Regions from separate parts of the Homo sapiens genome. Here all the other regions are linked to region 1. The links come from fine-mapping of genetic effects on gene expression. A gene starts in region 1. Each other region holds a variant in brackets. All regions are shown on one strand. Distances are between the middles of the regions. Region 1 holds the start of ANGPT1 (angiopoietin 1). Region 2 has its middle 130 kb from the start of ANGPT1. Region 3 has its middle 180 kb from the start of ANGPT1.

Evidence for each region.
Region 2: its variant is fine-mapped to the expression of ANGPT1 in whole blood (INTERVAL, PIP above 0.99).
Region 3: its variant is fine-mapped to the expression of ANGPT1 in whole blood (INTERVAL, PIP above 0.99).

Annotation. Positions count from the first base shown.
Region 1 is chr8:107,496,597-107,499,366 of GRCh38, forward strand. ANGPT1 (angiopoietin 1) reads right to left here and starts at 1,322. Exons shown (of 9, transcript NM_001146.5): 1 at 666-1,322. The coding sequence starts at 962.
Region 2 is chr8:107,629,815-107,632,584 of GRCh38, forward strand. No RefSeq gene overlaps it. Among named protein-coding and RNA genes, the nearest start is that of ANGPT1, 130 kb to the left of the region's middle. The variant A/G (reference allele first, on the strand shown) is at 1,516.
Region 3 is chr8:107,672,737-107,675,506 of GRCh38, forward strand. No RefSeq gene overlaps it. Among named protein-coding and RNA genes, the nearest start is that of ANGPT1, 180 kb to the left of the region's middle. The variant T/C (reference allele first, on the strand shown) is at 1,630.

The DNA of each region.
Region 1 (2,770 bases):
TCGTGAGCGAGCAACCCCTTTCCGACAGTTAACATTACAATGTATCTTTTTAATTTTTTTTCTCAAGGACAGAAGAAAAAAATATTTAACAGAAATCAGTCTACTATTCTACCACTTGCTGAAACTAACAGTTCCCTTTACATAAATATACAATTTCTCCAACCAAATATCATATTTTATATTTACTCTCACTTCATGTTAATTTTTATAAAGGTTAAAAAAACAAATACTTTGTGATGATTTGCCACCCCAGCGGCACAAAATTTTCTGGTGCAAAATCGATTTGATCTTATTAATTAATATTGTCATTATTATTTATTTTTCACCAACTTGCTTAAGAGGTACATACTTTCTTTCTTAAGGTAGTGTTTTGACAGAGAGAACCTTAATGCTGAACTTTAGAAAAGAGAAACCAAAAATGTCATAAAATTTGCCAGGGCTAGACACACAAACGGGGTGCCCCCACACATTCATAGGTTTGGGCAAGCCCCCAAACCTTGGCTTACCCAGGAAGCCAAACCCAGACAGCCGTCTTGCAATTGCAAACACTGCCCCCCTGGAGCAAAAGGTAAATACACAAATGCTCCCCTAAGGAACTTTAAGTTAGCTGCAGTGCAAGAAAGGAAAAAGGTCCGTGCTATTAGAAACTGAAAGCAATCACTTACTTTTTGCAGCCACTGAGTATAATTTTCCATCACATGTTCCAGATGTTGAAGTTTCTGGGAAGAGAAATCCGGTTCCACGTGTGGAGCATCTCTCTGCAGAGCGTTTGTGTTGTACTGGTCTGTCGTACTCTCACGACAGTTGCCATCGTGTTCTGGAAGAATGAAAGTGTAGGCACATTGCCCATGTTGAATCCGGTTATATCTTCTCCCACTGTTTTCTGGACTTCGGCGCTGATTGCTGCACCCTATGTGAGTCAGAATGGCAGCGAGGAAAGCAAAGGAAAGGAAAACTGTCATTGTACTGCCAGCACACTCCTTCCGTGCCTCTCGCAAAACTTGCTCCTTTCTTCTGACCTCTAAAACTAGTTCTTTATTTCAGGTAAAACTGCTTGTTTGTTTGACTCTTTCCCCCTCAAAGAAAGCGTTTGAAGAAGAATCATAGAAAACTAGCCATTTGTTAGCTTTGTTCTAAAATTTTAAAATTTTTTATTTCACTGCAATGATGTTTTTCTTCGTTAAAACTTGAGATATTTATTGCATAGTAGCTGAGATTTATTGTTTCCTCTCTGTGTGACCGTTCAGCATGGAGCCTGCCTGAGTCAGCTGCGTGTACATATTCTAGACCCTTTCCTCTACCCTATCTGCTGCAGATCTGCTATTTTCTCCCAGACCTCAGTGAGTTTTATTAAGGTTGCACATCCAAGCCAAGCTGGAAGCAGGCAGCCTTTCACAAGATGACTTGACAGGAATGCATGAGTGTGCCCCTATACTAAGGATTGCTGATGGCTTAGGGCGGCGGGATCGTCTTACAAATTGGCTAGATGCGCATGACCTCGATCATGTATGGCCCTCCCGCCCCTTTCCACAGACAATTGCCTTGAGCCTTTAGCAGATTCATGGCAAATCAATAAATAGAGCAGTCCACCTTAATACACTTTTGGTGTGCATGCTGACCTACTAAAATATAGCAAACTAGCAGTATGTTTTTAAAGTTACTATTTAGTCGAGGGACCCTAAGAAGAAAATTGGCATAATGTCCAATGGAATTATTTTTGATAGAGAATGATAAACCCATATCATTATTAAATGTCTTTAAAAAACATGTATTCTTGACTCTGAGGAAAAATATGTTAAAAAACAGTTTTTACAGATGGTATTCTTTCATTGTATTCACTTAGACTTTTAGGAGTTGAAGAAAATAATCAGAGAGGATCAAATTAGCAAGAAAATTAGCATCATTTGTTGCTCAAAGCAATATGTTGCACAAAGCAATATAGTATGTGCATATTAAAGAGGGTTATCTAAGTACCTTTTGGTATAGGGTTCTTAAATGAAACTGGTGTCCTGATCAGAATGCAACCCTTCATGTTCTGTGTATATAAATTGAGCAACTTCCCTACAAAAACAATGTGGCTACAATTTAAAGCAGTGGCTTGAGAATTATTAATTCCTGTGGTATATCCTAATCCTGTATTTTACAAGGATCTCTTTGGTGGCTATGGCTGTCTTTAACACTGGTGTGGAAGTTCCACATAAAAACCTCCTGTGGCTGCACAGACATACTATGTGAGAACAAGCATATATCAGGTGTGCTAACAGCCAGCAATGGGCTGTACAGGAGACATCTCTGTGCTTCTGTGAAGGAAGAAAGAAAAATTATCAGAAGATGATTTCCCACAGGCAGCGTATAAACATTTGAACAAAGGGACCCATAAACATAAACAGGCAATAATTGTAGAATTTAGGGAACGGCTTTGAGATCTTTACTAGATGCAGAAAACCTGAATTATGAGTTGGGATTTTCATTAGGAACTGGGAGGGCTTTTAGACAACTGCAGTCATGGTGTGAAAACAGAAGCCACAGCTGTCATCTCCCATGTCTTGGAAGGAGAACAGGGCAGTGGGTGAAGGTCCGTAGTGGTTAGAGATGGGCATTTAGGGAGAAGTTAGAGGAGAGGTCAAAACAAATTCCAGAACAAATGCGATTTACTTGGGGAAAGAAACCTTGCCGAGATTCATCAGTCCTTTCCACACCAAATAACAAATTTCTGATTGGACAGATATGGAAGCAAGTTATGCCAAACACAGCAATAAAATATTTGAAC
Region 2 (2,770 bases), 130 kb after region 1:
TCTTGCTAAGTTTTACCCAGTTTATTACCGTTGGGTCAGAACTTTTTGTCCTCTAATCATACTTCTGCACAATTGTCCACAAAACTGCACAATTTTCCCTGTTTTTTTTTTTTTTTTTTTTTTTTTTTGGCAGGGGTCTTCATCTCTGAAGGCTTCTATGTCAAGTAAAACTTATACTACATAGATTTGTGTGCTTTTCTCTTGTTAATCTAATTTTTTATTACCAGGGTCTCAGTCATGAATTGAACAATGAATGGATGAGAAAAAAAAAATCTCTTCTCCCCTACAATTTTACAATTATCTTTTTGAGACTAAGTCTCCCTCTGTCACCCAGGCTGGAGTGCAGTGGCACCATCTCAGCTCACTGTGACCTCCACCTCCCAGGTTCAAGTGATTCTGCTGCCTCAGCTTCCCGAGTAGCTGGGACAACAGGCACACACGCCACCACTCCTGGCTAATTTTTTGTATTTTTAGTAGAAACGGGTTTTTGCCATGTTGGCCAGGCTGGTCTCAAACTCCTGACCTCAGGTGATCTACAATATTTTTTTTAATAAAGATTCATCCTGTAAAATCCATTTATTTACACAGCCTCCATTCTGGAAGCAAACTCACTGATAATATGATTTCCCTAATAATGTACATAACAATTCTATTTGTTTTCTACGTAGATGCGTTTATAATTTATAGTTTCCTTTGTGCATGATGATGACAGACTGATATTGGTCCTGTATCCCAAACAGGGATTTAACTAAGATCAAAAATTGGGTTTCAAAAAAAATCCTTTGATTTTTGGCAACAACTGTTCATTCTTTGGCTAAACCCTCGTCTGTAACATTGGCTTCCCATGTTTGAAGGGCTCTTGTATAAGCATGAAGAACTGGCTTTCTCTGCTCTTCACCCAGTGACCCATGACATTGAAACAACCTTTGTCTTCATTGTGACAGAAATGTTCTCATTCAATAGTTGTCACAGAGCACTGTTCATTCAAGGAGTTCCGCTTAGCTGTTACTCTGCAAATACATTTCCTATAGTTGATGCTGATATTGGGGAATTAACCTTTCACACCTCTTTTCCATTTGATCCTACCTGTTGACATTTGTATGCCAAAAAAAGAATATGTCAGTGTCATGAGAAAGAGTAGATATGAAGTTCCAAAGTGCTTGTCTGCCAAGTAGACAGGTTTAGCTGAGGAAGGTGACTGGGAAATGTGTGAAGATCACACCAGACATTGAGATGTATGTTTAGAAACAGGGAAAAAAAAAAAAACCTGATTAGCAAGAAAGCTGGTAGGAGCAAAATCTGGGAAGTGAGCAGATAATAGCAGGTGACAAAGTGGGCCATAAAGTGGTGAATAAAGAAGAACAATTTGCAGAGATGCATGCACCATTCAGCATGAAAACTTAGTAGTCGGTCAAGGAGACAATAGCCTTGACTGGTCGAAGTGGAGTTTGATTTGACTTTTTAGGACTTGTTGTAGAATGAGAATTCCCTTGATCATGTGGGAAAGTAGGGAAG[A/G]CCAGTGCCCAAGTCACTCATGGAACCTTATAGAGAGAATGAGGGGGCCAGCAAAACAGTAAATTATAACACTGCAGGGCCAGATTACAAAATGTTTGCTCTAGGTAACAAATATCTGTGTTTTCTTATAGAAGGAATAGAGGGTAATGCTTCTAAATCTACGTGTGTATGATGACAGATGTTTATGCTTCCAAATTTATCTACGTATGATGGCATATGTTTTTATTCATCAATATATTGCTCTTTTATTTCTCAGCCCTCTGTGACAATATTTTATTTCTTTCGTTTTGTTTCATATCTGTTTTCCTCAACAGGCTGTTTTCTTGCCCTGGGGGGCAGGAATCAGATTTATTCTGTTGACTATTCAGTATCCAGGCAGCAAGGACAATGCCTGTCACATAATAGGCGTTAAATATATACTTATTAAATAAGTTGATGAATAAATAAATTAGTACATGAATGATAAACTCAATTTTCATGGATGCTTATTGGTGAGTGACTAACTTGTAAAACTATGACCACCCAAAACTAGATTTGGTTTCTATGTTGGCAAAACATCAGTCTATTTGAAACATTCAAATGAGTAATCATGTGTTTGGCTAAATATTTATCACTCTCCAGGAATTAGAGAAATAGGACTTATAGATGCTTTCAGTCTTTTCTGTCTTTGAGTGAGAAAAACCATAAATAGAACTAGAGCCCTGTTTTCACGTTGGGGCTTTTGTTTTATAATTCCTAGAATGCATGGAAACAGTAAAAATACTAAATATTTAAAAAATTAAGAATGTGGATTAATTTTAGGGTTAACTAATAGGTTCAGTCTTTCCTCTATTTGGTTGTTAAGTCTCCGTACTCATACTTTGAGGATGTTTGAATCTATTTGTCACCCCCATCTGTTTACATTTAGATTTGAAAACTAGATAGCACTTGTGTAATACAATGATTCAATTTGGACAGTGCCATATTTTAAGGAAGCAGTTTTAAGAAACTTTTTTTTTCTCCACGAAGCTAGGACAACCTCAGTATGTCTAATCTCTAACTTCTTTTCCTGAAAGAGAATCTAAACAAACCCTCTTTTATGGTATATTAGAAAGCAGCACGTTCCTCGTTCACCAAGGATACTTGCTAACATCTCAGGAAAAACAGGTGCCTACGTATAAGGGTCTCCGAGCTCCCAAAGTCCTGCTGAATACATATAATTCCTCTTTCAGAAGGAAAATAACAATACATATAGTTCCTCTTTCAGAAGGAAAAT
Region 3 (2,770 bases), 180 kb after region 1:
GTCTTACACTGTCCAAGTCTCTGAACCATCCTGATCTGTCCTGTGCTGCTTTCTCTTACAGGCTCCTGGGGTTTGGCAATTTGGTTGCATGTGTGTGTTTTTCCTCCATGGTATCTTGTCCCTGTGGTTATTTTCCTGGAACATAATGTCCTGTCATTTCTGCCTAGAAAACCCCTAGTCATGCTTCAACCACCAGTTCAAGTATCTTCCTCAACTCCTTCCTGCAGGTAACTACCACAGCATATGTGCTAGTGCATTATTTTTCTTTACACCTGAGTCAAGTTCTTTAACCCCTCCCTACCCCCCACAACTTCCCAGAGGTGTGAGCCAAATCTTAATTCATCTTTGATTTTCCAATGACTACCCAGTGCCTGACGTGGATATAGAAGGTACTTAATAAATGTCTTTGTTCCTCAGCCAAAATCTATTTTACTGTGTTGAAACGTCTTTCAATGATAAGATCATTGCCTAAGAAAAGCTCTTTCTGTGTTTTTATCATTTTTGCTCTTAAAAATTTGCATTCTTGAACTTTTCTTTGGTAGATATTGATTGGTTCATTTTTATGAATAAGATGTACAGATCTTGAATGTACACACACACACACACACATTCACTCAAGTATAGCTACACAGAAAATAAACCTTTAAAGATATAGTTTTTGCAGGCTACTCCTCCAAGAGAGCTGTCTAGCATGTAAGCACTTTTAACTTTATGCTGAGTGGACCTAGAAAAAAAAAAAAACAAAGGTAATAAATGTGAGGGTCATAGTCATCGAAAAGGAACTGTGCACCCTGTTGCAATTGATTAGTTTAAAACTTCTCTCATCTTACCTATAAGCATTAGGGCCTGTCTTTGCTGCAAACATTAGGATCCAATCATCTGGATTAAATAGATCAAGGACTTCATAAGCCACAGATCTCATAAAATTTCTTCTTACAAATGCATCGTTTTAATAAATGTCTTTGAAGCCAATGGTGCTGATTTCATGGTGTGTATTCAGACAGTCAATGAAAAGCCTGGGAAAAGAGAAAGCAATAATAAAAACCTTCCAGTCGATGAGTCAAATTGTAAGCAATGTGCAGCTTTGTAAACTTAACTGAATGAAAGTGAATACTGGACCAACAAGAAAGATCAACTCTTGTATCCAAGTTTGATCTAAATCAGAACAAGCTTCTTATATCACTTGATACTGTTTTGCACATTGTAAGCATTTAATAAATATTTGCTTAATGCATGAATATGTTAACAGTGCTTTGCCACTCACCTGTTTTCCTAATATTAAAGTTTCTTATACATTTAATTATATCCTTTTTACATGATTCATACAATTTGAACTTTGACAAAAACAACAAATCTAGGCAGCCATGAGAATATTTCATTCTAGGAAAAATATGCAGCTAGAGTGTTTGACAAACTTAGGCTTGCAACAAAACCACCGAAAAGGATTTTTCAATTCTCCTTCCCTTTATTCTTCTGCTGTATGAGACTTTGTGAACCAAGAACTCACATGGACAAGGCAGAGCTGGGTGTGAGCCCCTCTTTTGGGGTGATTGCCAATGGGGATAAATGAGCCAAAAGGAACCTAGAACACTGTTCTATCTACATTTTCTTAGCTACCACTCATCATAG[T/C]CATTATCATCACATTATATTCATTGCAGCTAACCCTGGGACTGCCACAGTAAGCTTACTTTTCAAATGGACTCTGGTGGTCATTTCTTTTTAAAAAATATTTAATAAATTTACTTAAGACAGAGAGCTGATTCCACAGGGCCCATTTTGTATTCTCAAACATGGAAGCCTATAATTGGAAATGGATCAGAGTTAAGTCAGGAAATTCTCTGTATTATCTTTTAAAATAATAATAGTGAGTTGGAATGATTGGCTTCCTATTTTCTTTAAAAAGAAAATCATGGGCTTTTCCTTTTAAAAACAAAGTCATCAGGTTTCAGTAATTGGTTTTATATTTGTTTTTCGGTTTTATTTTTTTTTTTTTACTAACTTTACCAGGTGTTTGAGTTGATGTGTACATTTAGCCAAAAAATTTAATCGGTTGAATGTGTAAGAATAGCCTAAGTATTAAAGGTCTCTGAAAACTTTTAGAAAACTATCATCACCCTTCCAAAGCATTATCCATTGTTAATGTACAATCCAGGTGCTGAACAAAGCAAATGAAATGAAGTACACCCTAGGGTTTAGGAACATATAATACAAACAATATTTCCCCACAGCCCTAGTTAATAACAGTATTACTTTTGGAGGATAATAACCCTAGTAAGCATACAATTTGAGATTGTATGTAATCCTAAAAAGCAATTTAAGATTGTTTTTGCTTAAATTACTTTTGCTCTTCCTTCTTCACTTTTCATTGTCCTCTTCCAATCAGTTCCCAACATGGTGGTAGACTGTAGTGTCTTAAGATGGCCACCACATCTCCTAGCCTATATTTCTTCTCAAACCTTCCTGCTGTGTCTATTAAGATGTGGAATCGATGCCCCTTTTTCTTGAATCTAAGTTGGCCTTTCTACTGCCTCAACCAAAATACTAGAAACAATGTTAAGTTGACTTCTGAGTTAAGTTATAAAAATGCAATTCACTTCCCCTTTGTTCTTTTGAAATGCTTGCTGTTGAAACTAGCCACCATACTGTGAGGAAACCCAAGCAACCTATGGAGAAGCCCATTTTAAGGAAATCAAAGCTCTCAGAACCACAGCCTTAGCCAAGCTGCAAAGTGACAGCCAGTAGGAATTATCGGCCATGTGAGTGAACCATC